Linked DNA regions of Homo sapiens: regions 2, 3 and 4 are each reported to be linked to region 1. Evidence: microRNA targets listed by miRTarBase, many of them from high-throughput screens and not tested one by one. Region 1 holds a microRNA gene; each other region holds the end of a gene's coding sequence. Distances are between the middles of the regions.

What was found. Region 1 holds the annotated microRNA hsa-miR-558 (UGAGCUGCUGUACCAAAAU, at 4,035-4,053, shown strand). A microRNA usually pairs through its seed, bases 2 to 8, with sites in the 3' UTR of a target mRNA and lowers its output. Matches are read on the target gene's strand: a 7mer-m8 pairs with bases 2 to 8, a 7mer-A1 pairs with bases 2 to 7 and ends in A, and an 8mer does both.
Region 2: miRTarBase lists HES6 as a target of hsa-miR-558. Seed matches in the 3' UTR shown: 7mer-m8 at 6,374-6,380.
Region 3: miRTarBase lists SELENOS as a target of hsa-miR-558. The part of its 3' UTR that is shown has no 7-base or 8-base seed match.
Region 4: miRTarBase lists ANKS1A as a target of hsa-miR-558. Seed matches in the 3' UTR shown: 7mer-m8 at 1,650-1,656, 8mer at 2,006-2,013, 7mer-m8 at 3,879-3,885 and 8mer at 4,038-4,045.

The regions. Positions count from the first base shown.
Region 1 is chr2:32,528,179-32,535,178 of GRCh38, forward strand. It overlaps MIR558 (microRNA 558), which reads left to right and starts at 3,975; the gene lies at 3,975-4,068. BIRC6 (baculoviral IAP repeat containing 6) reads left to right here. Exons shown (of 74, transcript NM_016252.4): 60 at 1,473-1,646; 61 at 3,177-3,373.
Region 2 is chr2:238,232,241-238,239,725 of GRCh38, forward strand. It overlaps HES6 (hes family bHLH transcription factor 6), which reads right to left. Exons shown (of 4, transcript NM_018645.6): 2 at 7,421-7,485; 3 at 7,247-7,328; 4 at 6,027-7,011. The coding sequence ends at 6,587. It also overlaps the pseudogene TARDBPP3. Among named protein-coding and RNA genes, the nearest start is that of HES6, 4.1 kb to the right of the region's middle. RefSeq lists enhancers at 2,002-2,503, 6,229-6,797 and silencers at 2,204-2,333, 2,484-2,573.
Region 3 is chr15:101,265,697-101,273,466 of GRCh38, forward strand. SELENOS (selenoprotein S) reads right to left here. Exons shown (of 6, transcript NM_018445.6): 6 at 6,495-7,160. The coding sequence ends at 7,075. Among named protein-coding and RNA genes, the nearest start is that of SELENOS, 7.9 kb to the right of the region's middle. RefSeq lists an enhancer at 1,375-1,909.
Region 4 is chr6:35,087,044-35,094,813 of GRCh38, forward strand. ANKS1A (ankyrin repeat and sterile alpha motif domain containing 1A) reads left to right here. Exons shown (of 24, transcript NM_015245.3): 23 at 1-6; 24 at 1,563-4,363. The coding sequence ends at 1,566. Among named protein-coding and RNA genes, the nearest start is that of TCP11, 50 kb to the right of the region's middle. RefSeq lists enhancers at 423-1,250, 1,251-2,076.

The DNA.
Region 1 (7,000 bases):
ATCATAGGTGAAGACTGAAAGCCTGCTGTTGTTTGTAGCTGCTTTTTCCTTTTTTTTTTTTTGAGACGTAGTTTCACTCTTGTTGCCCAGGCTGGAGTGCAATGGCGTGATCTCGGCTCACTGCAACCTCCGCCTCCTGGGTTCAAGCAGTTCTCCTGCCTCAGCCTCCCGAGTAGCTGGGATTACAGGCGACCACCACCACGCCTGGCTAATTTTTGTATATTTGATAGAGACGGGGTTTCACCATGTTGACCAGGCTGGTCTTGATCTTCTGGCCTTAGGTGATCCACTTGCCTTGGCCTCCCAAAGTGCTGGGATTGCAGGCATGAGCCACTACCCCCGGCTCTGTGGTTGGTTTTGTTTAATAGCTGAAACAGGTATCCTGGTGATGCTACTATGCTGCTTAGTTGTCCTGACACATTATTTTTTCAGTGTTAATGGTATGTCATATTTTTACTGTTAAGTACTTAATGTATGAATAAATGTAAGAAAACAATTGCCTATTGTTAGCATGTAGATTAAGAGTCAGGAATGATGACTCTTGTTGACATGGGTGGCTGAGATAGTGACACCTTTGCTTTCTGATGGTTCAGGGTACACAAACTTTATTACAGGCACAAAATTATCAAAAATACGGTATAAAATTACCTTAAGGCTATGTATATAAGGGATGTGTGTATGTGTGTATACACACAAAAATAAATTTTGTGTTTCCACTTGGATCCCCTCCCTAAGATAACTCATTGTGTACATGCAAATATTAGAAAATGCAAAAAAAAGAAAAAAAAAGAAATCTGAAACAGTTCTAGTCTCAAGCATTTTGGATGAGGGATACCCATCCTCTATTTTATCACCATTTTCATGCTGTATTAAAATGAAATTGCCAACTCAGTTCAAAGGAATTTTTCTTCTTAGCTTTACATTGTTGATTCATGGTGGAGGCGAACAAACTATCGACTGGTGGGTTGGATACCTTGGTCCAGAGAGGTCCTTGTGACATATCTCATGGCCCATTACCTAGGTGATGTGAGTCTTGCCTTCTGCCTGCAATAAAGTTTTGTTGGAATGCAGCTATGCCCATTTACTAGTGTATTGTCCATAGCTGCTTCTCTGCTACAATGTAGATTAGCAGTTGTAACAGAGACTATATGGCCCCCCCAGGTTAAAGTATTTATTAGCTGTCCTTTTATAGAAAAAAATGTCCCACATCAGATTTATGGAAATGTCTGTTCCTTTGTTTACGTTTTGCCCATGACTTTTTAACACTTTCACAGACATTATTGTTCATTATTATATGTCAGAAATAAACTCACTTTTTGTAAACTTTCCAATGGCTGTTGAATTTTTTAATTGTTTTGAAATTGGTTTCAGAATCAAACTCTTGCCTGTAATTTAGTAAAAGCAGATAATAATTAAACCAAGTAAATGTTTCTTTCTCGGTTTCCAGATTTAACTTAGTTATATCATTTTAGGCCAGCCATTGCCAGCTGAAATGACACTTGCCCAGCTTTTAACTCTCCTATATGACCGAAAACTTCCTCAGGGTTACCGCTCAATAGATCTGACTGTTAAATTGGGATCAAGAGTTATAACAGACCCCAGTCTATCAAAAACAGATTCTTATAAAAGACTACACCCTGAAAAAGGTATGTGCATAATACTACTTTAAAAATTACAGACTGTCATACAAAGAGGCAGAGATTTCTATAGCTAATGACTTAATTGACTTGTGTTTTTATTATATCAACATAAGATATAATTTTTTTATGACTGAATTTTTGTAAATATAAAAAATGGCCATTATTTCATTTGGAAACTAAGTTGCATTATTTCTTATAACATCATTTGTTTTATGAGCGCATGTACTTTAATTTCTGATATTTCTGTGAGAGCTATGTGAATTGTCATTTTATAATAAAAGTGAGAAACTCAACTTACAACTTTGTTATAATTTATATTGAGTGGCATTTCTTGCATATAAACATGTTTTCTCATATAATTGGGATCACATATTTTTGTTTTTTACTTATATATTCCATTAATTTTTTTTGAGACAGAGTCTTTTTCTGTCTCCCAGGTCGGAGTGCAGAGGCACGATCTTAGTTCACTGCAACCTCCGCCTCCCGAGTTCAAGTGATTTTCCTGCCTCAGCCTCCCGAGAAGCTGGGATTACTGGCACCCACCACCATGCCTGGCTAATTTTTGTATTTTTTGTAGAGAGAAGGTTTCACCATGTTGGCCAAGCTACTCTGTAACTCCTGACCTCAACTTATCTGCCCGCTTCGGCCTCACAAAGTGCTGGGATATAGGCATGAGCCACCGCACCCGGCCCTTATATTCCATTAAATATTTTTGAATATCCATTTTTGAATTGGCTATTTTTTCATAAAAATGTAAGAAAATTTATTTGTTCCCCAATCATCGAAACATTGTGGTTGTTTCCAATTTTTACTCCTATAAATGCTATATAAGTAGTTTTCATAGTGTGAGTATGATATGAACTTACTTAAACTTTCCATCTTTCTCATGACTAAAATTCAGTCTTTAGTTATTGGTCTTTTGTATTCTTCAGCAAATTTTGGTACATTGTCTTTGCCCAGTTTTTCAGCACGATTATTTCTCTCTTTTGTTTTAATGTTTAAAGGGTCTGGTTACGTGACCTTTTGGTTTTCTTTGGTGAGTAATTCAGAGTTAAACTAATATGGTATAATTTTTTGTTTTAAGTAAGGGAAGTCTTTGTCATTAATTTTTCTTAATAGGATACTTTAGAGCATATTATTTGCTATGAGAACTTTGAGAACTTATTTATTTTAACATAGGATATACGTTAAAGTATGCCCTAAAGGACAGTGCTTCTCAAACTTCAGTATGCTTACAAATGACCAGCATCATACTGTTAAAATGGAGATTCTTCATTTCAAACTAGCTTGCAGGTGATGCCAATACTACTAGTCCATGAACCATTCTTCCAATAACAAGACTAAAGAAGGCAGTATCAGAAGTCATTTAAAGGTCATTGTACCGTCTAGCCATAATACAGCTATATCTAAATAAATGATGTTTTGTGCTCTTTTTTGAGTAGCAAGAAAGCAGTAATACCTGCTTTTGTAAATGAAAGAATATTATAAAAATATACCCTTTCTTACCTATTCAGTTATTTGTAATTTATTGTCTAGATCATGGAGACTTACTTGCTAGCTGTCCAGAAGATGAGGCTCTCACTCCAGGTGATGAATGCATGGATGGGATACTGGATGAATCTTTGCTTGAAACCTGTCCAATTCAGTCACCATTACAAGTTTTTGCAGGAATGGGTGGACTGGCTCTTATTGCTGAAAGACTACCCATGCTATATCCAGAAGTAATTCAACAGGTAAGATAAGATTTCCTAATCGAGTATATCATTCCATAGCTAAGCCCTTCATTCTTTTTAATGTTTGTTTTTTAATGTACTTGGATTAACTTTGTAGAAATACCCTTTGCTTTATATTTTTTGAACATTATATAACTCTTTCAATGGTCAGTCTGTACAGAGCTTCATGACCTTCAGTAGGTATGGAAGAAATGTTGAAGATCAAGCACACTTGCCAGACTTACTACACTGTTGCATTTATCTTGATTTCATGGTTGTAACACTAGCATTCTCTTTTCTATGCTGCTTTAAGTGTGATATTTATTAGAGATATTATTGGAAATAGGAGAAGTAAAATAGCAGTGTATACTGCCACCAATATATGTCTTTTTGTTTACCTTTTATTCCTGTTTCAGGTGCCATTTCCATTTTTGGTGGTTTAAAAACATGACCTATTCCCGTGTTCATTTACGAAGCTGTCAATGTCTGTGCTTTCCATGCTCTTGTATCAATCAGTAGGAAGTATGGTGCATGGAGAGTTGTAAAAACAAAACTTTGTGTTTGTTGAATGAAGTAGGGGAATTATTCTCTTTGATTTCATGTCGTGTGTGTGTGTGTGTGTGTGTGTGTGTGTGTGTGTGGTTATTTTGGTATAGTAGCTCTAGACTCTATTATAGTTTCCTGAGCTGCTGTACCAAAATACCACAAACGGGCTGGCTTAAAACAACTGAAATTTATTCTCAATAGTTGAGGAGGCTGTAAGTCTGAAATCAAGATATCAGCAGGGCCATGCTCCCTCTGAATTCAGGCTGTAGGGAAGACTCCTTCCTTGCTTCTTCCTGGCTTCTATTGGTTGCCAGTAGTTCTTGCTGTTCATTGGTTTGTAGCTGAATCACTTTAATTTCTGCCTACGTCGTCATATGGCCATCTTTCCTGTGTGTCCTTGTATCTCTTTCTCCTTATAAGGACACCAGTCATTTAATGTAGGGTCCTGCAAACCATTATCTCCTCATCTTAACTTGATTACATCTGCAAAGGCCCCATTTCCAAATAAGGTCATCTTCATAGGTGCTAGGGGTTAGGACTTGAACATATCTTGGGAGGACAAAATGCAACACACAATAATACTTATTCATGTTATTGCTTCCCTAGTATTCAAAAATATAAGATGATATAACTATGTTATAAGGTGATTGACACAGAATGAGCAAAATTTTCTTACTAGACAATGACATAATTACTCAAAAGTTTGAAGCAGAAAAGACCCCAACATTTTCAGCATTATTATTGCTCAACATAAATGATTTTTTCTAATTTAGTATTCAGTGTGGTTCACTATATTGATTAGTAACTGGAAATGGGGTCCTGGTAATACATACCTAAGAATGTGAAAGTGACTTTAGAATTGGGTACTTGGCAGAGTATGGAATAATTTTGAGTAGCATGATTTAAAAAAAAAATCTAGATTACCTTGAATAGATTGTTAGATAAAATGTGGATGATAAAGCTTCTGCCAGTGAGGGCCCAGAAGGAAGTAAGGATCATAGGGGAGAAAACCTACAGTGTCTTAGAGAATATCTGAATTGTCATAAGCAGACTTGGTAGACATACAGGTGTTTAAAGTGCTGACAAGGTGGTTTAGAAGGAAATGAGGAACATGTTACCGGAACCTGAAGGAAAAGGGATCTTTGTCATATAGAAGCAGAACTATTAACTCATTTGTGTCCTAAATATAGAAAGCAGCACTTCTGCTGTAATGAACTTGGATGTAATGAACTTACATGTAATGAACATGTAATGAACTTGGATGTTTAGCTGAGATTTCCACACAAAGTGGTGAAAGTACAACCTGTCTTTTTCTTGCTGCTTATAGTGAAATGTGCGAGGAAAGATATAAATTGAGAGAAGAACTGTTGAAAAACAAGCAATCAGTGCTTGTCAATTTGTGAAATTACCTATCCAGATCACAGAAGGTGCTAAAATTTAGATATTTGCTATCAGAAAAGCATGCTCCAAAGTATAAGCCAAGAGTGAGGCTGGACAACCTTTTGCTAGTGCCTTAGAAACATCAAAAGTCAGAGTATTCAGTCACATAGAGGGCTCTTTGAAGAGATTAGGCATGTAACTCATGGATCTCCTCAGCCGTCTAAGCATAAGCGAGGAATAGAGGATATGATGTGATGATGGAAGCATCCAAGAGCCATGGAACGTAAGTAGCCTCTGGAAGCTGGAAAAGGTGAGGAACTGTTATTTCCTAAGAGCCTCCAGAAGCAATGCATCCTTTGATTTTAGTCCCATAAGACCTGTTTTGGATTTCTGACCTCTGGAATTTTAAAATAATAAATTGTGCTGTTCTGAGCCACTGAGTTTGTGGCAATGTGTTATAGCAGCAGTAGAAAACTAATACAGAGTTTGGTCTGTAGTTGTAATGCCTTTGTCTGGTTTTGGTGTCAGGATACTACTAGCTATATGGGATGGGTTGAGAATTTCTAATATATCAAATTAAGGATACTGTTAGGTGTGTTTAATAAGAGACACTGTCTGGGCATGGTGTAATCCTAGCCTGTAATCCTGTAATCACACTTGTAATCCCAGCACTTTGGGAGGCCAAGGCAGGAGGGTCACCTGAGGTCAGCAGTTCGAGATCAGCCTGGCCAACATGGTGAAACCCCGTCTCTACTAAAAATACAAAAATTAGCCCGGTGTGGTAGTGGGTGCCTGTTATCCCAGCCGTTCAGGAGGCTGAGGCAAGAGAATTGCTTGAACCCGGGAGGTGGAGGTTGCAGTGAGCCGAGATGGCTTCATTGCACTCAAGCTTGGGTGACAAGAGTGAAATTCCATCTCAAAAAAAAAAAAAAAAAGAGACACTGCAGATTGCAACAGTAGTGAACTGGAAGATGTATCAAAAGAAATCATTCGGCTTGGCGCGGCAGCTAATGCCTGTAATCCCAGCACTTTGGGAGGCCGAGGCAGGCGGATCACCTGAGGTCAGGAGTTTGAGATCAGCCTGGCCAACATGGTGAAACCCCATCTCTACTAAAAGTACAAAAATTAGCTGGGCGTGGTGGTGGACGCTTGTAATCCCAGCTACTCGGGAGGCTGAGGAAGGAGAATTGCTTGAACCCAGGAGGCAGAGGCTGCAGTTAACCAAGATCGCACCACTGCACTCCAGCCTGGGTGACAGAGCAAGACTCTGTCTCAAAAAAAAAAAAAAAAAAAAAAAAAAAAATGGTTCAAATGGAAGCATAGAAAGTGTAAGGAATGAGAAGAACATAAGAGCTGTATGGACTGAAGTGAAAAATTCTAACTTACATGAATTTATAGTCCGAGAAGAAGAGTGAGTTGAAACATGGACAGAAACAGTATTGAGAAGAAGAAAAATTTCCCAAATAGATGTAAAACTTAAATCTCAATTCAACATGTAAGAAACTGTTAACTCATGCAGGATATGCATGCCTGGAACTGTCATGGTAAAAGTGGTTAAAAACAAAGACAGCTGGCCACTGCAGTGCATCTCTGAAATCCCAGCTACTCAGGAGACTGAAGCGGGAGGATTACTTGAGCCCACGGGTTCCAGACCACCTGGGCAACATAACAAGACCTCATACCCCCAAAAAAGCAAAAAAAAAAAAAAAAAAAAAAAAAAGC
Region 2 (7,485 bases), 210 Mb from region 1:
TAGTACCTTTGGAGACGTTCTTATGGTGCGGCAAAGCCAAGATGAGCCTTTGAGAAGCAGAAAAGTGTTTGTGGGGCGCCGTACGGAGGACATGACTGAGGATGAGCTGTGGGAGTTCTTCTCTCAGTATGGGGATGTGATGGATGTCTTCGTCCCCAAGCCGTTCAGGGCCTTTGCCTTTGTTCCATTTGCAGATGATCAGATTGCGCGGTCTCTTTGTGGAGAGGACTCGATGAAAGGAATCAGCGTTCACATATCCAATGCCGAACCCAAGCGCAATAGCAATAGACAGCAAGAAGTGGAAGATTTGGTGGTAATCCAGGTGGCTTTGGGAATCAGGGTGGATTTGGTAAGAGTAGAGGGGGTGGAGCTGGTTTGGGAAACAATCAAGGTAGTAATATGGGTGGTGGGATAAACTTTGGTGCGTTCAGCATTAATCCAGCCATGATGGCTGCCCCCCAGGCAGTGCTGCAGAGCAGTTGGTGTACGATGGGTGTGTTAGCCAGCCAGCGAAGCAGCCAGGCCCATCGGATGATAACCAAAGCCAAGGCAACATGCAGAGGGAGCCAAACCAGGCCTTCGGTTCTGGAAATAACTCTTGTAGTGGTTCTAATTTTGGTGCAACAATTGGTTGGGGATCAGCATCCAATGCAGGGTCGGGCAGTGGTTTTAATGGCGGCTTTGGCTCAAGCATGGATTCTAAGTCTTCTGGCTGGGAACGTAGACAGTGGGGTTGTGGTTGGTTGGTATAGAATGGTTGGAATTCAAATTTTTCTAAACTCATGGTAAGTATATTGTAAAATACATATGTACTAAGAATTTTCAAAATTGGTTTCTTCAGTGTGGAGTATATTCAGTAGTATTTTTGACATTTTTCTTTAGAAAAAGGAACAGCTAAAGGAATTTTATAAGTTTTGTTACATGAAAGGTTGAAATATTGAGTGGTTGAAAGTGAACTGCTGTTTGCCTGATTGGTAAACCAACACACTACAATTGATATCAGAAGGTTTCTCCTGTAATATTTTATCCCTGGACTTGTCAAGTGAGTTCTTTGCATGTTCAAAATGGAAGCCATGAATTAGAACTACATTCTTTATTCCTTGTTTTAATTTGAACCCCACCATATGGATTTTTTTCCTTAAGAAAATCTCCTTTTAGAAGATCATGGTGTCACAGTTTGGTTCTTTTGTTTTGTTTTTTAACACTTGTCTCCCCTCAAACACAAAAGTACAATATGAAGCCTTCATTTAATCTCTGCAGTTCATCTCATTTCAAATGTTTATGGAAGAAGCACTTGGTTGAAAGTAGTGCTGTAAATATTCTGCCATAGGAACACTTCTGTCTACATGCCTTCTCATTCAAGAATTCGTCATCACGCATCACAGGCCGCGTCTTTGACGGTGGGTGTCCCATTTTTATCTGCTACTCTTTATTTCATAGAGTCGTATCAACGCTGTGAACGCAAGGCTGTGATATGGAACTAGAAGGCTGTTTGAACTTTTGAAACCTTGTGTGGGATTGACGGTGGTGCTGAGGCATGAAAGGCTAGTATGAGTGAGAAAAGGAGAGAGCACGTGCAGAGACTTGGTGGTGCATAACGGATATTTTTTAACTTGGCGAGATGTGTTTCTCAATCCTGCGGCTTTGGTGACAGTGTGCAGACAGCAATGATAGCAAATAATGTACGAATGTTTTTTGCATTCAAAGGACATCCACATCTGTTGGAAGACTTTGAGTTTTTGTTCTTAGATAACCCACTTTATTTGAATGTGTTAAGTGAAATGATACTTGTACTCCCCCTACCCCTTTGTCAACTGCTGTGAATGCTGTATGGTGTGTGTTCTCTTCTGTTACTGATATGTAAGTGTGGCAATGTGAACTGAAGCTGATGGGCTGAGAACATGGACTGAGCTTGTGGTGTGCTTTGCAGGAGGACTTGGAAGCAGAGTTCAGCAGTGAACTCTGGTGTCTCAAAGAAGGGTAGAAGTTCTAATGTCTGTTAGCTACCCATAAGAATGCTGTTTGCTGCAGTTCTGTGTCCTGTGCTTGGATGCTTTTTATAAGAGTTGTCATTGTTGGAAATTCTTAAATAAAACTGATTTAAAAAAAAAAAACCAAAAATCTAAGTAAAGGGGTCGGAACTACATCTCCCAGGAGGCCCCGCGGCTCGCCTCTGGCGGGGCGGGGCTGGAGGGGGCGTGGTCAAGGCCTCGGCTCCTCCGAGCGCCTCCCAGCTCACGGCGCCCCCCGAACCCGGCTCCAAGGGACTCGGTATTCCCCAGCGCCGGCTCCGGGCAGTCCCGGAAGGGCTCAAGGGCTGGGCGACTGGCTGATCGAGACCGTCCGGGTCCTGGCTCTCGGGTCACTTGCAGAGGCCTGAGCAGAGCGTAGGGAGGGCTGGAAGGGAGGAGCCCCGGGGGGCGGCGGTGCTGAACCGGGTAGAGTCTTGAAGGTCACGGTCAGGACTGGAGTGGGAGGGGAGTCAGAGGCCTGCTGCGGAGGCCCAGGTTAGAAACGAGGCTGCCTTGGACTCGGTCGGTGGCAAAGAAGACGACACGTGGAGGCAGGGCTTAGAAGTAGAGCTCCGCCGGGCTTGGTGGCTCACGCCTGTAATCCCAGCACTTTGGGAGGCCTAGGCGGGCAGATCACGAGGTCAGGCGATCGAGACCATCCTGGCTAACACGGTGAAACCCCGTCTCTACTAAAAATAGAAAAAATTAGCCGAGCGTGGTGGCTGGCGCCTGTAGTCCCAGCTACTTGGGAGGCTGAGGCAGGAGAATTGCTTGAACCCAGGAGGCGGAGGTTGCAGTGAGCCTAGATCTCCCCCACTGCACTCCAGCCTGGGCGACAGAGTGAGACTCCGTCTCAAAATAATAATAATAATAATAAATTAATAAATAAAAATAAAAAAGAAGAAGAAGTAGTGCTCATGGGCTTGACTGATAGGACGTGGGATGGCAGGAAGAGGGTGAACTTGAGGGTGACATCTAGATTTTTTTGCTCAATCCATGGGGTACCAAGAAGTGGTAATGCCTGAGGATCTGTTGTTTTGGTGGTGGTGTGAGCCCATCTGACATCTAAGTGCAGTCACTGAGTGGACAGGAGGATACAGAGGAGCCAGCCGCCTGGAGAGGGGCTTTGAATCAAGGGCATGGGATTGGCAAAACGGGCCAGATGGTGTCACTGGGTGTGGGGGCGGCAGGGAAGGCTGAGGACAGAGCCTTGGGAAGAACACGTCCAGTTGGAGGGCGGCAGGGAAGGCTGAGGACAGAGCCTTGGGAAGAACACGTCCAGTTGGAGGTCGGCAGGGAGGAGCATTGAGTACAGGGGACTGAGGATGGCCGATGAGGTAGAAAGAAGGCTGGTGTGGTGCCCTTGAGACTGGAGAAGGAGCCTCCAGATGGATGAGTCATAACCCACGAGAAGTGAAGCTGACATGCGGACATGCCCACTGGGTTGGGAAACATGCTCGTTACTAGAGATTTTGACTGTGCAGTTCCAGTGGAAGGGTGGACAATAGCTTGATTGGAAAGGAATGAAGAGGAATGGGATGCGTGGAAGTGGAGGCAGTAAGTGTAGATGACGCTTTCAAGGAATTTTGCTTTAGAGCATTGAGACAGAGGCTAACAGTATGTCACATCCAGGGAGGTTCTTCCGAGTAAAGGTATTCATATTACAGCCCGTTTGTAGGTTAATGAGAATGATCCAGAAGGGAGGAGAAGCTAATGGTGCAGTGGAGAGCAGAGTCCCTGAGCAGGTGAGCAGGGATGGGGGCCCATGCCCATGTCGGAAGCGGGCGCCACACTGCTTCATGATGGAAGGCAGAACGCCTGGGCCAGGGTGCAGGCAGGTGTCACAGAGAATGTCCTTCATGACCACATCCTAGTTCCCAGAACCTGCGAATATGCTACTTTACATGGCAAAAGGGAGTTTGCAAATGTGATTAAGAATTAAGCTAAAGACCTTCATACAGGGAGATTATCCTGGATTCTCCAGGGGGCTGGTGTCATCACAAGGATCTTTAAAAGTAGAAGTAAGGAGGAGACGTGACCAAGGAAGAAGGGTCAGAGAGACGCAATGCTTCCGAGGAACTCTGAGGATGGAGGAAGGGACCATCCTCCAAGGAATGTGGGTGGCCCCTGAATGAAGAGGCAGGAGAAGGCACACAGCCCTGCCTGCCAACACCTTGATCTTAGCCCAGTGAATCCTGACAGACTTCTAACCCGTGGAACTGCAAGACAATAATCGTGTGTTTGAAGCCACCAAGAGTGTGGTCGTTGGTTTTGGCAGCCATAGAAAAGTAATACAGTGGGTCAGGGATCCGGGTGGGAAGGAGACAGCCCTCAGAGAAGGGATCCGGGTGGGAAGGAGACAGCCCTTAGAGAAGGGATCCGGGTGGGAAGGAGACAGCCCTCAGAGAAGGGCTTGTGGGGAGCCTGGGGGTGCTGGGAGAGGAGCTGGTGTGAAACAACCAGCTGGCTGGGAAGCTGGTGGCCCCAGGCTGCACCGCAGGCAAGAGCAGCTCTCAGCCCCAGGAGGCCAACAGTGGTCACTGGTGTGGGAGCCAGTTACATTTCCAAAAGAAGCTGCACTTGAGGATTACTGTGAAGCTGACTTTAGGGCTGGAGGGGCACAGGGCCAGAGTTCTGGGTTAGTGGCTTCTGACTCTGGTCCTAGCAACGCTTTTACTCCAGGTCAGCCTCCTGCACCTTGCCTCCTGGGCTTCCCCTTGACCCCCTCCTAGGGCATCTGGGAAGGTGTGATGAGTGGACTTGAGAGGTGAAAGTTGTTCCTTTGAAGCAGTCCATGGCTGATGCTCCCTGAATGGCATGAGAGCTCATTGGCATGGCCTCTGGGTGCTACTGGAAACCAGGGCTTTCAGGATGGCCCGTTATCCATCCGTGTCCTGGTGGGTACATCCTACATCAGCCTGTCTGAGGACATTAAAATAATCCCAGGAATGATATTTCCATTGCTCAAGACTTCTTCTGTGGCACTGGCTCCCCCACTGCCCCAATAGCTCGGCTCCAGATGATAAAGCTGCATCTGGTTATAGCCCAATGGCTTCTATGATTGAATTGAGGTGAGCCAGAGTGAACCTCAAACTTTGAAACACCCCTGGTGGCCAGGACCTGCTTGGGGGCTTTTGTAAAGGGGCTGCTGGGAAAGGTGTTCTTAAGGCAAAAGCACATGTCCAGAGAGGAGACCCCGACGTCAATCCTAAGTTGTCACACCTTGGCCCTAGCCTGGGGACTGCCAACCCACAGTGAGAAGCTGCTGCTTTGGGGTCCTGGAGCAGGAGGAGGGGGCTAGGCTAACTGTGGCGGTGACTTCAGCCGGCTGACCACGTGCTATCTGCAGGTCTGGCCGAGCCCAAGAGGGCAGGCTCCCGCACCCCAGCTGCCCATCCTGCCACCCTCCATCCCTGAGGGTTCTGACCTCCTGGACCCAGTTTGACCTAACGCTCAAGCCCCCTGGGGCCTTGGCGCTTTCATTTCAGGCCACAAACTGGGTGGGTCTCCTTGACCCTGAAGTCAATGGCAGCAGTGGGGAAGTTCCTTCTTCAGTCAAGATAAGCAACAACCTCACACAAGTAGACTCATGTCTATGTCATGCTCGTGGGTCCTAAAACAGGTCTTTAAAAGATACTTTCAAACCAAATAGGTAGCAATTAGGCATTATTTTATTATTCCTGAAGCTCATGAACAAGAAAATGGCACAGAGACAGGTCATCTCCCTATTGCTGAGTTACCCTGGAGACAAGCCTCATGCAAACAAACTCCTTCTCCAGGACACACAATGCCCAAGAACAGGCTGGGTCTGAGGACCTGCCTAGCATGGGGGGCAGAAGCACTGCCTGCTGCAGAGACAGCCACGGAGTGCATCCCCACCACCATCACACTGCTCACTCTGCTGAGAAAGGGTGAGGTTTTAAAGGACATTCACCAGCCTCAGATGCAGGGGAAATGTGCTTAGTTTAGCATTTACATATCTTGACACAGTAATGACACATCACTCAACAATACTTCAAGGGTAACTAACTCCAAAATTCTTTATTTAGTAAAATTGTCACATTTGATGTCAATGGAATACACAAACTCAAGTGTGCTACAAACAAGATGTACAGAGCATCACAGCTCTGGGCAGTGCAGCTCAGTGCACCTGCCTCTCATCTCCCCGCTGAAGTGGCAAGTTCAAGCTTTTGTTTAGCCCAGGGCTGCCTGGAACACTAGTGCCCAGCACCATTTCTGCCACCTCTGCCCCCAGAGCCCGCACAGGGCTGGTGAAGCCTGGGTGGGTGAACCTGGGAGAGCGCTGGCAGCTCTACAAAATTCTTCCTCCTGCCCGTAGCTCCCTCCCTCCACCCACTCCAGAGCTGCAGGGTCCCTAAAAGTTTCTTAAGAAACGGGGCTGGGGCCTGACTGGGCTGGTTACCAGGGGCTGCCCTGCAAGCCATCCATCAGAGGAGGGAGGGAAGACCTGGGAGACTTCCAGGGCCCTACCCCACCACATCTGAACCCCTGGGAGGAGGGAGGAGATCCAGGGAGGGCCGGGCCCACCCCCGCAGGACTCTGGCTGGCATTGGTCACCAAGGCCTCCAGACACTCCGGGCAATTTGGGCTGTGGTCAGGCTGCCCAGGGCTGCGGGCACCAAGTCGGGCCCCTCAGCAGGAGCCTGACTCAGTTCAGCCTCAGGGGCCTCCTCCAGGTCGGAGCACAGGTCGTCCCCAGGACCCGGGGGGCTGGGTATTGGGGATCCCGGAGCGCCCCCCGCAGGCCAGCCACTCCGTCCAGGGGCTCTAGGTGGCCCCGCCAGGGCGTCCCCCAGCAGATCCTGGAAGCTGCTGCCCTCACGCAGCGGCATGGACTCGAGCAGATGGTTCAGGAGCTCGGCAGCGACGGTAGCGTCGATGGCCTGGCACGTGGACACGAACGTGTGCACCTCGTGCATGCACTGGATGTAGCCGGCAGCGAAGCGCTCGCTCGCTTCCGCCTGCAGCTGCTCGCGCTCTGGGCCCGAGGGTGGGAGGGAGAGAGCCGCGTCCCGCGCGGTGAGCGGCGACTGCGTGGCCCAGCCCACCCGGCCCGCGGGGACGCGGCTCACCCAGGAGACGCGGGGGCGCACCCTGCTCCGGTGGGAGCCCTCGCCGCCGACAGGACAGGGGCGCCGGGAGGGAAGTCCTCCGTCTGGCAGGGGTTACAGGCGCCCGCGGCCGGCGCCCCCGCCCGCCCCGCCGCCACTCACCGCGCGCCCGGCCCCGCAGCACACCCTGGACCCGCCGCACCGTCAGCTCCAGCACTTCGGCGTTCTCCAGCTTGGCCTGCACCTGCGCGGGCGGGAAGGGCGGTGAGCCGGCAGCGCGCTCCCGGACCCGCCCGCCCGCCCCGCAGCCCCACGGCGCCTGCCCGGCCGCCGCACCTCGGCGCCCGCCAGCAGCAGCCGCAGCTCCTGCAGGCTCTCGTTGATCCGCGCGCGCCGCTTCT
Region 3 (7,770 bases), not on the chromosome of region 1:
AGGTGCACGCCACCATGTCCGACTAATTTTTGTATTTTTAGTAGAGATGGGGTCTCGCCATGTTGGCCAGGCTGGTCTTGAACTCCTGACTTCAAGTGATCTGCCCACGTCGGCCTCCCAAAGTGCTGGGATGACAGGCTTGAGCCACCACGCCCGGCCTCTTCTCTTCTAAGGACACCAATTGTTACGAGCTGAATTGTCCCCCCTAAAATTTATATGTTGGAGCCTTAACCCTCAGTACTCCAGAATGTGACTATATTTGGTGACAGTCTTTAAAGAAGTAATTAAGAAGAGGCCATCAGAGTGGGCCCTAGTCTGGTATGACCGATGTACTTGTAAGAAGAGATTAGGACACAGAGAGGCAGGAGGGGTAACTGTGACAAAGAAAAGAGCCTGTGACCAGGCAGCAGGAGGGTGGCCATCTGCAAGCCAAGAATTGAGGCCTTGGAGGAGAGTCCTGCAGCACCTCCTCCAACTTCCAGCCTCCAGAACTGTGAGGGAATAAACGTCTGTGGTTGAAGCCACCCAGTCTGTGGCATTTTGTTACGGCAGCCCTAGCCAATGATACAGTAATCACATTGGCTCAGGGCCCACCCTCTGCGCAGATCTCATCTTAACTGGGTTACATCTGCTGAGATTCTATTTCCAAATAAGGGCATATTCACAGATACTGGGGGCAGGACCTCAGCACATTTTGGGGGACACAACTCAACCCCTAACAGTCACCTTGAGTGCAGGCATCGGTTAATGAGCTTAGCAGATATTAAAGCCGGGCGCAGTGGCTCATGCCTGTAATCCCAGCACTTTGGGAGGCCGAGGCGGGAGGATCACTGAGGTCAGAAGTTTGAGACCGCCCTGGCCAAGAAGGTGAAACCCTGTCTCTACTAAAAATACAAAAATTAGCCGGGCGTGGTGGTGTGTGCCTGTAATCCCAGGTACTCAAGAGGCTGAGGCAGGAGAGTGGCTTGAACCCAGGAGGCGGAGGTTGCAGTGAGCCGAGACCGCGCCACTGCACTCAGCTTGGGTCACAGAGTGAGACTCCATCTCAAAAAAAAAAAAACCAAAAAAAGCAACAAAAAGAGATATTAATGCCATCCCCAGAGGCTCATGCCTTCAGCTGGGCTCAGCCAATGGGAGGCACAGGCAGAAAGACTGGTGGGTGGGAGGAGACTAAGGTCATTTATCGTGGTCCTTCTCACTGGGTCACTGAGAGCTGGCGTCTCTATTGAAGGCTGGTCTCTGTCGGGCGGCCCTCCCCCCAGGTCCTGGTAACTGCTCTCAGGTTTGGGGGCATTAAAGGTTCCCCGATGTTGCTAGCCACCCGGATTGTATCATGCCTAACCCTGTCTGCACCCTGGCAAACAGCTCGTTTACTGAACGCTCCTCAGCCAGCCAATTTGAGATGCCATTTCCGGCTGATACAGGCCATGTCCTAGGCTCTTTTGGGATTCAGGTGGAGTGTATTGGTCAGAACAGGAGTCTTCACATTTGCCGGGTAACTCTCTTGCTTATAAATTTTGGGGATGATCCTCAAAGATCAAGTTGGGGCAGTTTTGATCCAGATGGGGAGAAGTTTCACAGACGCAAAGATGTATACTAAGGCTGTGTGACCCGGAAGACTCCCTTCTACTGCAAATGGCCAGTTTCTTCCCCTCCCTGCATCTACGCCTTTGCAATGTGACTCGACAGCTCCTCCCACCGAGAGGCTGTGCCTTCCTCCAGCCTTTGCGTTGGGACTGGCCTTATGAATTGCTTTGACCCGTGGGAAGGTAGCAGTGTGGAGCAAGCAGCAGCTTGAAAAACTTGGGCACACAGTCCTTGGAAATGAACAAATCCGGGTTAGCCGCAGATGCAGAAACACATGGGCCAGTCGCCTGTCGCCCAGCTTAGCGCCAGCCAGCGGGCAGATGTGGGGGAGGCCACTGGGCCCTGCCAGCCGCCAGCTGACCACAAGCATGAGTGCAGAGCCAGCCCAGCAGAATCTTCGGGATAAATGGTTGTTTGAAGTCATTATGTTCAGGGCAGTCCAGATGCTGGAAACACTGAGCTGACCATCTTCCAAATCAGAGGTCACCCTGGCAAGCTCACTTCTCTTGCATTTTTTCATGATGAGCCCTTTTTATTACAGCGTTTGCCATTGTTTGGGTGATGATGAAGAGAAGCCTGAAGTGAGCTGAGTGGAGGCTTGGAATAGCTACTTCAAAGAGAAGCGGGCTTAACCTGTATCAACATCTGCAGACGTGCTCTCCTGAAGCTGGTCTGGTGGCACTGTATGACCCCCTCTCAGGATGCTGAAGGCAGCAAGGGGCCAGTGAAGGTCCCTCAGAACCTGCAAAGGACCACGTAGACCCCAAGACGGACATAGCTACTCAGGAGTGTTAGGAGCTGTACTAATACTGAACACTAGAGTCTCCTGGTTTGTGGTTGTTATGGATTGAATGTATGTGTCCCCCCACAAATTAGCATTTGAAATCCTCACCCCCAAGGTGATGGTATTGGGGGGGTGCCTTCGGAGGTTAACTAGGTCATGATGGAATTAGTACACCTATAATGGGGGCCCCAGAGCTCTCTCCACCACGTGAAGACACAACGAAAAGTTGGCCATCTGCAGCCTGGAAGAAGGCCTCACCAGAACCCGGCCATGCCTGCACCCTGATCCTGGACTTCCAGCCTCCAGAAACAAATGCCTGGTGTTTATAAACCACCCAATCTGTGGTACTATTACGGCAGCTAAGACAGAGGAAAAGGTTGTTTCATCTCTAAATTATTTCCTACAACTTCCAACCCCTACTTCCACAGAAGTGGAATCTGTAGCTACAGAATAAACCTAAGTTAGGTCTTCGTAAGTCACATCATTTCTTACTGGAATGTGTATTTCCCATCTATGGGCCTTCATCAGCTATCGTCATCTACTTCTGTGGCCATGCAGTGCTCGTCTTCCCCCACAGATGTCAAGGCCCTCAGGGCGGGGCCTGTGTTTACACTGTCCACAGCATCCTCGGCACCCCCAGGCCCATTCTGAGCCTTTAGTTCCCCAGAGCCCATAATTTTCTGTGAGTTCTTCGAAACAGAGCATTTGAATTGGGGTATGAGACACTGATATTTTATCATAAGCCACGATTACCCGTCTACAGAATCACTAGAAGATGCGTTTGCACATATGTGGTATCCACAATGCCACTTTCGCCACGTGACATTAGTGATGGTTTCCTTCTTGCCTTTTCTAACTCCATGAGGTGGGCGCTTATGTCAGGGCTTGTTCTAGTTGCCGGGGATGCACCCACACACCAAAGAGACCACTCCTTTTGTCTTGGAGTGAAGAAAAGACACAATTACAACGAAATGTGACAGTTGTGCCAGAGGAAGACTGGATGCTCCGAGCACACACAGCATTCACTGCAACCTGACTTCTTCCCCTTAGTCAGGGGAGAAAGGGGGAGACACACTGTGTCAAATGTGGCCAAGAGAACAGGTCTAAAGACAGCTCTGGGCACCCCAGGGGTTTCAGGAAGGTGAGAAAAAGCAGCAAAAGAGAACAAGGAGTGGCCAGAAACGTAGGAGAAAGCCAGGCAAACTCGGTGTTTTGGAAGCCAAGGGAGGTGTTTCTTCAGGAGTGCTCAAGGACCGCAAAGGATGCTAACTTCAGGCGAGGACCGAGGCGACCCATCACCCCCTGCCACACGTGACCTGAAGAGCAGCTTCAGCAGAATGGATTTAACAGCAAATGCAGGAAGAGAAATTAGGGAACACAGAACACTTTTTCAAGACTAGAGACCATGGCACAACTGGCAAAGGAGAGAGGTGTGGACTGTCACGGGGGCTAAGATCCAGTGTGTAGAGTGTTCCAGAAGGGAGGGCTGCGAGGAGGGGCATGTAGGAAATGTGCTGTCAAGTCAAATACAGCGAGACCAAAATTCCACTGGCACGAGAAATGGGATGAACTCAGTAAGGGCACCTTCCACATCGCTAAGGAGTAGGGTGAGAAACGCCCACCCAGAGGCACCCAGGGCTGCGCATTTGACGGGGCCTTGCTCTTTCCAAGAAGAGACAGACTTGGCATGTTACCTATCTGAAGGGGGCGCAGAGTGGAGTCCCTGAGGAGAGGATGGGATCCAGGCGGTGATGGGATCCAAACGTGGTCGTTCAAGTCTTTTCTCCTCAAACATTTAGCCAAGGGCACAACTCTATCTCCTAAGCATTCCAATTGAAGACTCTTGTGTGTTCTGCCCCACAATTTACTCATGTTGCTCCATGATTGGGATAGGGTGCGTCACACATTATCTAAAACTTCACAGCTCCCAGTGTCTGTCCCAAACTCCTGCCAACTGCCAGGACACACCGCGAGCCCCACAGCAGCCTCTGCTGGTGGACAAGGTGAGCACATGGCCTAGGTTTGAAGCATGGTTTTTATGGCTCTGGCCGTCCCTTCTTCCCCAGGGGCCTCAGCTTTTGGCATTTGCACCTCTGCCCCCAATTTCTCATTTTTTCAAGAAAGGTCCAAGACCTGCTTTCCCTGGCAAGCTCAGTCCACCTTTCTGAAATGCTTAATGCCCTAGATCTGTAATGTGATTTTCACTGTATTATTACTTCACATAACTTTTTTTTTTTTTTTTTTTTTGGAGATGGAGTTTTGCTCTTGTTGCCCAGGGTGGAGTGCAATGGCACGATCTTGGCTCATCACAACCTCCACCTCCACCTCCCACGTTCAAGCAATTCTCCTGCCTCAGCCTCCCAAGGAGCTGGGATTACAGGCATATGCCATCATGCCCAGCTAATTTTTTGTATTTTTAGTAGAGACAGGGTTTTACCATATTAGTCAGGCTGGTCTCGAACTCCTGACCTCAGGTGATCCACCCATCTTGGCTGGTGGGATTACAGGCGTGAGCCACTGTGCCTGGCCACATAACTGTTTCATTAGCTGCAAGAAGCTTCCCACACCTTGATGACTTAAGGCCTTTGGCTAATATGAACACAAGGATGAAGTAGACTACAGCGAGTAGCGTTGTGGACCAGTTACTAAGCCCATCTAAGCTTCAGTTTCTGAAAACCAAGGTTAGTAACATACCCGTTTCATAGGATTCTAGGGGGATCAAACAGAAATGGACACTCCTGCCACGTGGTAAGTGCTCTTCAAATGCTATTACACAACGCAAGTTTCCCCTCCCCTCCATTATCTCCTAATCATTCTCCCTGACACCCTCCTTCCACCCCTACCAAAAGGTGCTAGATGCAAGGGGGGCATGCAGAATTCAAGCACTGTTTCTCCCCATGGAAAAAAATCAGGTTTCAAGGTAGTCAGTCACATCTAATAGTGTACTTAAACATACCCCTCTACTTTTTGTCGTTTATTTCTATTTATAACAAACTCTTGTGTTGAGGGCTCTTGATGGACGGCAGCAAGGGAGCTGCTCTGCTGCATATGAAACCCCGACCCAGAGCCCCTCTACTCATGCGATGTGTAGTTGACAGCCACTTCACAAACATTTTCAGCTACAGAAAATATATTCAAGGAAGAATGTTAAAAAGTTTCCTTATAACCTACAAGGGGTTCTCTCTAGATGTAAACAAATCTGGATGAAATATTTTAATCCAAGTATACCATTTCCCACGTCGTAAATCTTCTGGGCTGGTGGGAGCCAATCCAGTTACACACTGGAAGGGGAGTGAGGGTCCCAGGGCTTCCCCACACCTCACAAGGCCCACCCTTGTTTCCACTGACCCTCTCTTTGACCTGAAACCCCCAATTGCCTCCACAGGCAAAACAAAACTCAAATCTCTCTAGACTCAAAGACTTAAGACTATGCCAACCTATTTGTTTGTAATTACACTGCTCAAGGCTCCTGTTTCCTCTCCTTCAGCCATTCTCCAGAGCGCTCCTCAAGAGATTTTAAGTCTCTCACAGCCAGACTGTATTTCCCTTGGTCAAGAAGCAACCACGGAATATTCTACCTGCAGGAGATAACAAATGTTGACTAATTTATGTATGAGACCATTCTATAGTACTTTTGCAGCGAATTACCCCCTATTCTGAAGGTTAATGTTTTTCCTTCTGATGATCTAGACGGGGTCCACACACTACAGCATTCAGCCCAAATCCAGCCCATGAGCAGAGAATCTTTTTTAAAAACAATCCTTTAAAAATATAAAAACCTAAGACTATGTGACAGAGATCATATGTGGCCTGTAAAGTCTAAAATATTTACTGTTTGGCTCTTTATCCAAAACTGCTGATAGTGCCTCTGGACAAGAGCGTAAAAGATGAGTCATGGCGTAAGGGAATAACTGAGAGGTCACGTAGAAACCTGGTCAGCCTATGAGGAACCTTGAGGCACGATGTTTCTTTATCCCAGTAATTCGGCAACTCGACTCCAAGCACCCAATTTTGTGGATGAACCCCAAGGAGTCTGTCAACTTTCAAAATCACGGCAGCTGTCTGCCACTTGCCAGACTTATTTTGGGTGAGTAATAATAAATAGAGAAATAAGTAATAGTTAGAGGTTGTAATAAAAAGCTATTTAATGTTTGATAGACAAATTGAAGTCCATAAATCTCCTTGAATAAAGATGCTAAAAATGTTATTCTTGTTTTTTAAATAGTTTCGTTTTTACAAAGTTCTGTACATAAAAATAAATATACAGAAACAAACCCCATCAACTGTCCACATCAGTAATCCTCACTGGTGGGCTCACCATTGATAAGGAAGACATCATTCAACGCAACCTGTCACAGAGACTGTCCTAGCAGCAAGGATTTCTAACCTCAAAAGAACATTACTAGGCCTCTTTTATCAAGATTGCTAATCATCTAGAGGCCTTTACCTACCAACTAGCAATTAACCATGAAATCAATGAATGCAATCACTGTCTCCAAGTAGAATGTGACCAATGACCTCATGCCTAGAGGCAACATCTATACCTTTTGCTGACTGGAGCCCTGACATATGCAGGTGTAGTTAGGAACAGAAATCAACCCCACCTCCCCTTGGCTAGTCACTGTGAAAAGCGTGCGTAAGGCAATTGAATCGAGGGTTAAGGGTTCATCTTGCTAATGTCAAAAGTGACACTAACAAGATTCTTAGCCTCATCCGCCAGATGACGGGCCTCTGCGTCCAGGTCTCCAGGAGCAAGCTCCGCCTCCTTCACCAGACAACGGGTTATAACCTGGGAGGACAGAAAAGCAGCACAACAGTATTGATAAAAATCTGAAAATCTGGGAACATTGTATATCCACAATAAAATTATGAGAGTGACACGCAAAGCACTGCAAAGATACAGATCCTAAGGGACATTTAAAAAAACCTTTTAGCTATGTGAAAAAAAAAAAAACCTTTATATTGTGATTGCCATTTGAACTGATTGTCTGGTGGGGAAAAAAGTCATTCAGCTTCTTTGTCCCAACCTCCGAAACACATGCAAAAGGGTCACCAAAAAACTCTCTCAAGAGGGCCTGATTTAAGTATATGAATCCTCCTATCACAGTGCTTACTAAAACTCATACATTCAAATAAGGGCTGTTCACGCTACAGAAAACAGATTAAAAAAAATCAAGAGTCAAACTTGTCACTTCTACCAGTCAGAACGGGGTCTTCTGTATCCTTCCCTACCCCCAACCACCCCACTCCCTCATGAGCTTCCCAAAGTCAGTGCACAACTGGTAACCTGGTTGAGTGCTAAGGTTCTAGGGCCACCCAGAACTTAAATGTTACTTTTACTCCTTACTTATAGTGGAATCTTTGGGCAATTAAACACTGTGCCTCAGTTTCCTTATTTG
Region 4 (7,770 bases), not on the chromosome of region 1:
CACCAAGTATGAGACCACTATCTTCTAAAACAACCCACTCCCTGTCTCCACTAGTCTCACTGTGCCTTTGCCATCCGATCTTTCTGCTGTCCTCAACTCTCTCCTTCCAGCTGCTGATGCCAAGGCCCCACCTGCACTGGGACCTGCTCCTCTTGGGCGGGCGGCAGCGTAGACGCTGTACACTTGCAGCTCTCGCACCTACCACCACCGAACACTGTGAATTCTCCCCCTTGGGCTGAGGACAGCTTGAGGGGGTGAGTTGCCTTTGAGGTGGGCATCAAGAGGGCTCAGGGGTTCTGTTGCACCCTGGAAGCCTCCACGGGCAGGCACTGTGAACCCCGACGGGCAGGGCAGTCTCCAGCAGGATCCCAACGGCACTGATAGCTCCCCAGGGTTGGGCTGGGCTCTGTGTGGCTCCCTCCTCCTGTCTGCTGTACTGAGCCACAGCTGGGCACCGTTGCCAAGAGCTAGCTGACTGTTCTCACCTCTCCTGAACCAACCAACCACTGTGACCACCCAGTGCCAGAGTCCCCAGCACTCTGCTCACAGCCGGCCTGCAGCCCCACCCCACTGTCCTCCGCTACTCCGAGGTGCTGGCCTCACTCTCATGGCTAGGCCCTTGTGAGACCTTGAGCTCAGTGATGTGGCTGGACCAGGGACAGACTGCTTTCTGTGAGGGCCCAAGATATGCGCCAGGCCCTTGGGTCCGTGCTGACTGCCCCACTTGGGGCTCTGGGTATCTGAACACTCACAGGCTGGCTCACACAGCAGGTGTCTCAGTCCTGATGGGCCTTCCCCTCCAAGGAGGTGGGTGGCATGTGTGTGGACAGCCCCTCTATCTTCGCCATGGAGTCTCAAGGCCTGGCAGCCTTGGGCCTGGCTCTGGAGTCTAGCTCACTGAGGAGGAAGGCCTTCCGTAGAACCAACGAGGAGGCGGCCTGTGCCCTGCACACACGGCGCACCTTCTTCCCTCACAGAACAGAGCTGCTGGAGGACAGGGACCTGGACCAAGTGGCCTCCATTGTCCTCTGGGAGCTTTCTGACACTCTCCACGGTGGGGGATCACAGATAGACAGCGCCGTCCAGCATGCCCCTGACCACCTCCCTCAGCCTCCTGACTCCTCCGAAAGGAGAGGCCGTCCCATCGCAGCAGCTCAGAAGCTGGGATGGTGGAGCTGAGTCTTTGAAGAGGCACCCCATTCTCCAGTGTGGGCAAATCAGTTTGGATGGCAGGAGACAGGAAGGAAGCGGCGCCCATAGGCAGCCGTGCACACATAGCAGAGTCCACTAGGAAAGCCAGTCGGCCAGGGCAGTCAAAACCCAAGTCGATAAACTGGGTGGGTCCTGCGTACCCACCCATCCTTGTGCCTTCCTGAGCAGAGTCACTGAGCCAGAGGCAGTGGGGGCTGCAGGCTGTGGGTGCTCAAAGCAGGCATGGAGGGTGCCCCGGGGAGGCTGTGAGGGATCGTCTGTCCTGCTCTGTGTTTCCTTTCCATTTCCTCCACCGTCCGCAGGCCCCATTGGTTAACCCTTTCCTCCCCCCATTGTTTGCTTCTGCCAAGCTGAGCCACTGAGGAACCACACTGTGCTGCGGAAACATAGACGTGGGGGCATAGGCTCCCACTGCCACCACCGCCATCGCCTCACCTGCAGCTCTGAAGACCCAGGCCTCACCTCCGCCTGCAGGACCTCCTCTTGGCCACTTGGCCTGGGCCTGCCACCACCACGTCCTGCAGAACGAGCCCTGCCTTGGCTGTGGAGAAGCACTCCAGGCCGCTAGCAGATGGGACTGGCATTCCAGAGGGTCAAGAAGTGACTTGTTCAGAACACATTGTTTTTAACAGAAAAAAAATCTTTTTATAAAATGAACTTTTAACACTTGGCTCAAACCTCTAGGTCATACTGCCAATCTTTAGACAAATGGCCATGGGGCAGAGGACAGGGGAGCTGAGGTTGGTTCAGAGGCCAGCCTGCATAGCCTCTGTCCTCAGGACGGAACTTGGGTGCAGCTCAGTGGGTCGGAAGAGAAGGCGGTGGCCTGTGGGTGAGGGGAACGGAGCAGGCTCAGGCAGAATTGAGTACGGTGCGTCTGCTTTTCAAACCCAACCATATCAGCTGCTGCTCTTTATGAACTGCCCAACTTCCTGTCCCTTTCAGGGGCTAGACACAGGCTTCTCGTAAGAACACAGCCTTAGAGGCACCTGAGCAACTCAAAGGTTTCCGGTCCATTTCTGGGGTTCCCGATGGGAAGGTTCAGTGGCCAAATGAAGATAAGTGTGCAGTTTCTAGTGCTGGGAAGTCTTAGCCAGCACCAGAGCGCCAGGCCTCTCCCTGGCCTCTTACCTGTCAGTGATCGGAGCACTGCCCTGGGCTGGCCGGCGCCGTACTGCCTGCGTTGTGTCAGAGAATAGGAAAAGCAGCTTTGTTTGGGGCATTAATGCTTGGAGTGGGGTCAGCTAAGGTTGCTACTTGCCAATTTGTGATTTGTCTAATCAGCCTGTGTGATTGGGGCTCATTTTGATTCTCTGAATTATCGGTTTGACGGTTACACTTGGCTGCTGGGCCCATCCCTGGCCCCCGGTGTGGAAAAGGCTAAATAAGGTGACAGTGCATCGATGCTCCCCCGCGTGGCCTTTGGGGCAGGCTGGCATCCCGGTGCGCCTCTGCTTCTTAAGCTTTCCTGCTGCTCGCTTTGTTTTTAAAAGTAACTTGGGTTGCATTCTTCCCTCTGGACTAGAGTAGAAATGCAGGGGAAACTGCTGTGGATTTGAGAGGCAAAGTTGGCTCAGCTGTGTGCCCAGTTCCTCCTGTGGGCACTTTAGCAGGCTCCGAGCTTTCCTGGCATAGGTCAATCAGGTCCCAGGATGAATAATCCAGGCTTCAGCAACACTCCTCTTTCCCAGCCAGCAAAGGCTGTGAATTTGAATTCTTTGTTGGTATGTATGTGCAGGGAGTACTGTTAGGCACATTCTTAACCCATGTGGTTGGCCAGAAATCAGAAGTGGGGCTGTGTCTCTGACTGGCTAGAGGCCAGGCCTTGTGGGTTTCTATCTGCTAAGCACCCAGCAGGTTGGGGCCTGGGACTCAGCTCTCTCTGCGGTAGAGGCAGGCCCTCCTCCACTTCTTGGTACTAAACGAAGATCTCGACACCTTGCAGTTTTACTTCATTTCCTGCCCCTTTCAGGGCCTGTGAGGATGCCCATGAGCTACCGCTGTACAGTTCTCGGCCCCGGCTTTCTTCCAAGAGTTGACCAGGAACCCTAAAGCATCCAGAGTAGACTGCGCTGCCACTGCGCACATGCTGGTGCCCGTCTTCCTCCTAAGGGGCCAGGCCACATCCAAGTGGGCCTCTGTCGGGGGCGGGGCGGTAGGTCCGAAAGAAACCGCAGACACTACGATGCACTCCTCAAGCTGTCTTTTGTGCTTAGATCATCCATAGGTGTTTCTTCTGCTTGAAGCTGCTATATCATCTTTATTTATTCAGGGTATTTTCATATTGGAAGCCTTGGCTAGTCTGCTCTAGCTCTGGGTTCTGTTTAGAGATTGGTTTATTTCTGAATATTCAAGAAAGGAAAATGACTGGGCCTTTCTTTCTTTTCTTCTCCTCTGGGATGGGTAGTCTCCCTTTCCTAGAAAGGTTATTATAACTTTAAGGACAGGCTTCAAGTGGGAAGGCCCCTACTTTTGCACTTCTCCAAGTGCAGGTCACACCAGGGGCAGACCCTGTCGCTGCGTTTCTGAACTGTGAAGGAGCCCATTCGGGTGGGAGACTTCAGATGGGCTCAGTACCTGTCCCAGCCACAGGCTTCTTGTCCACCTCTTCTCCCCTGCCCACCAGCTGCTCAGCGCATAAGACCTTCCCGACAGGCTCTGCGTGTGCAGCTCTCTGCGTCCCTCCTGGGCCCTCCAGCGTCAGACACTAATGGGAGTTCCCGAGATGCTCGGGTTTGAGCAGGGAGCAGGCAGAGCTGCAGTCAGAGACATTAGAAAACCAGTCTGAATTGGGTCTGTCTTTGAGATGCCCAGGCCAGCAGAAAGCAGCTCAGAAGTATTGTTGCTCATGGTGTGGCAATGGACTGAACTGTAATGAAAATGTTATTTAATCTTTGTCTCTGTATTTTGATACTTGAATGACTTTCCCTTTTGTTTTACTGTATATAAAATTGTTAATCTGTCTGATTTTGTCTGAATTATAAACACTTTGAGGTACCAAACATAACCAATCTGTGCAACAACATAGACTGACCTCAGTACCCAAGAGAGTGTAAATATTTCTGGGCTTCCAGCTTTGGTTTTGTTATTTTCATAACTGTACACAACTTAGAACAGACTGAATTAATAAATGAGAAGCGACATGAACGCAGCCTTAATTCTTCTGAGTCTTTGAATTGGAAAGCGTCTTGATGGTTTTCTGGCAGAGGCGTGGGCACAGGCGAGACGCAGGCTCAGGATCAGTGATTCGCATCCTACACCGTTTGGCTGAGATGACGACAGCTTGGCTGTTTGGCTTTCTGTCTCGCACTCTCTAACAAACAGTTAGTTACAGCTGTGCTGTGAGGCGCAAGGGCCCCAGGATTCACCTTCCCCTCCTTAGGAACATCGTTCTGTGAACACCAAGCCAGGGCCACATTCTAGTTACTGCTGCAGTGGCATCTCTTCTGCCTCTTGGTCTGGGCTTGTCCACCCATAGACATGAACCGAACATCTGCCTCCCAGGCAGCCTGGGGGATCTAGAGCTGTGAAAGAAAGTGCTCTCCTTTCAGGAACTTGCTTGGATTGCAGAGGTTAAGTTTTAGACATAAACAACTAGCTACCAGCCCGAAGCCGTGCTATGGTAGGGATGCAGAGGGCAAAGTGTTCCCAGAGGGCTGGTGGCAGGGAGAGGAAGGGGCAGGGTGCTGAGCTGTATTTAAAGGGGAGAATTTGGGAAAGCACAAGCAAGCGGTCATAGCGGCCCCTTCACTGATTGACGGAGCACCTTGGCCCCTTCACTGATGGAGCACCTGTGTTCCAGCTCTGCTAGCTTTCCAGGCAACCATCTCATTAGCCCCACTCCTTTCCGGACAGGTGTTGTCACCTCTATTCATAAAGCAGGGCCCAGGGCCTCTATTCATAAAGCGGGAGGGACCTTGAGCCCCATCTGGTCCAGTGGCTCCAGCTGCCAGAGCCCCTGTTCCTAGGCCTGTTTCAACCCCAGCTGCCTAGCACTGAACGCTTTTATTCCTGAGTTTCTGTGGACGCTTCCGTTTCTTAAAAGGGCCTTAAAAAAGAAAATTCACTTATCTAGTTCAGTACCCATATTGAACATAAACAATAGTTGTTTATGTCTAAAACTTAACCTCTTTTATTGGTAGAGAAAACAAGGTCCAGACTTGGAAAATGATTCTCTCCTAGCCAGCCTGCCAGCGAATGGCAGAGAGCCAAATCCCAGGTTGTAACTCCCAACTAGGGCTTTGTAGGCCACACTGCGTTGAGTTGGGAAAGTCCACTGAGGCCCAGTGGGGGAGGCCTCACATTCCAGAGGGGTTCTTCATCCCCACATCCCTTGGCTCCCTGGCTATGGCGCTCTTTCCTAAGCAGAAGAAACCTGACAGCCAGAAGAGAAAGGTCAGGTCATAACTAGTGTCATCAGGGCACCAGGACACATAGCTGCTATCATCATCCCTTCTGGGACCACCTTACACATTCTGCCTCTGTGTGAGGCACAATCCCTGGCCTCTTCCACTCATTCCTTTCTCCCCCTTCAGGGGCTCATTTCTGTCATACTCCTCCACATCCTCATGAGCCTCCCCTTCACAGATGCTCAGGCTCCTAGACAGCTGGGTTGTTACTACTGAAAATTGGGATAGATCAATCCTCAGCAATGACCAGGCCACGGAGGAGGAACTTTCAAGCTGGAGCACTTTCCAAGGCAGCTCAAAACACCCTCTAGTCAGCCATGGCCACCCCTGACTTCCTGAACCCAGAGGGTATCCAAGTCCCATAAATAGGGACAGGCCGACTATCTAGTGTGTCATGCAGTTCAGCCTGGGGCTCACACTGCACCCACTGTCATCAACTAACAACAAGGAAAGCTAAAGTCTGAACCATCCCTTCCTCCGTGCAGCCTCTACGACTTTGAGACCGCTTTTTTCAGGATTCGGCTGTTAGGAACACTATTATAAACAACTATTTACCAAATAGAATTTTCCTAACACCATAAAATATTTATTACTCAGTAAATGGAGCTGGGACAATTGGGCAGCCAAGGAGGAGGGAGTGCAGGGAGATTCCTGTTCCAACTTATGCCAAAATAAATTCCAGATGGCTCACATATTTAAATGTAAAAACAAAAAAACAAACAAAACTCAAAGCTAGAAGAAAATGGGAGGCTTTTTTTTAATAAGCGTGGTTTGAGAAAGGCCTTTCCAAACGTTATAAAACCCTGAATCCATTTTTTAAAAAGGATTAATATATTTGAGTCTATAAAAACTAAACATTTCTGCATAGCAAAATGCACCTTTGAGAAAAAGAAACAATGGAAAACTAACATGTGCACCACATGTAACAAGGACACCTTGACAACAGCTATCAAAAGTAAACTAACGCCTATGTCTCGGAAGATCAGTAGATGCTCTTTTCCCTGCTCTTCCCACTAAGTACGATTAAAACCCCCAGTGGAAACACCAGTGGGCACAGACAAAAACCTGTTCTTCCCAGCCAGAGGACCAGGAAAGGGGCAGCTTAGCAAGACAGAAAATTTAGACAATAAATAACTGCTCTACTCCAGCCAAGCACCACAGGAAAAATGGGGCCCCACCCAGATCAGCAAAGGCCAAGACCTCTGCCCTCACAAAGCTATAATGAGGTGCCCAACAACCTCACGCATGTTGTCAGAGGGGGCCTGGTGAAGAGACAGAACGCTCACCAGCGCCCAGTGATTGTGATGCTGCTCCCGCCTTGGGAGTCAGTGGAAACTACAGGGGCAGCCGGGAGTGCCACGGCACCCCAGCAGTAACAAGCAGCCTCCCACCTCAGGTGTCAGTGGAGGCCAGGTGGGGAAGCTGGGCTTTGACCCCCAACCTGGCAGTAGTATGCTATTTCCTTTTCCCTTGCTAGAGTGGTGTCAAAGTCAGCTAAAAGAGAAGGTTTAAATAAGAATGAGAAACAGAAATGTCCAAGTTTCAATAGAAAATCACTTATCATACCAATATCCAGAAAACTCTCAATCTGAATTTAAAAGGCAGTAATCAATAGATATCAACACTTAGCCAGACATGGTGGCACAAACCTGTAGTCCCAGCTACTCGGAAGCCTGAGGCAGGAGAATGGCTTGAGCCTGGGGAGGCAGAGGTTGCAATGAGCCGAGATTGCGTCACTGCACTCTAGCCTGGGCAAAAGAGTGAGACTTCGTCTGGAAAAAAAAAAAAAAAAGATATCAGCACCAAGATGGACAGATATTAGAATTATCTGACAAATATTTTAAAGCAGCCATAAGAAAGTTTCAACAAATAATTATAAACACACTTGTAGCAAAAGAAAAAGTCAAATGTCTGAGCAAAGAAATAAAAGATATAAAGAACCTATTGGAAATTCTAGAACTAAAAAAATACAATAACCAAAATCAGTGGATGGGCTTAAGAGTGGAGTGGATGGGAAAGGAAAGAATGCACCATAAACTGGGAAACAAAACAACAGAAATTACCCAATCTGAACAACAGAGAGAAAACAGATTGAAAAAAATGAACAGCATCTCAGGGACCTGTGTGACCATAACAAAAGATCTAACAT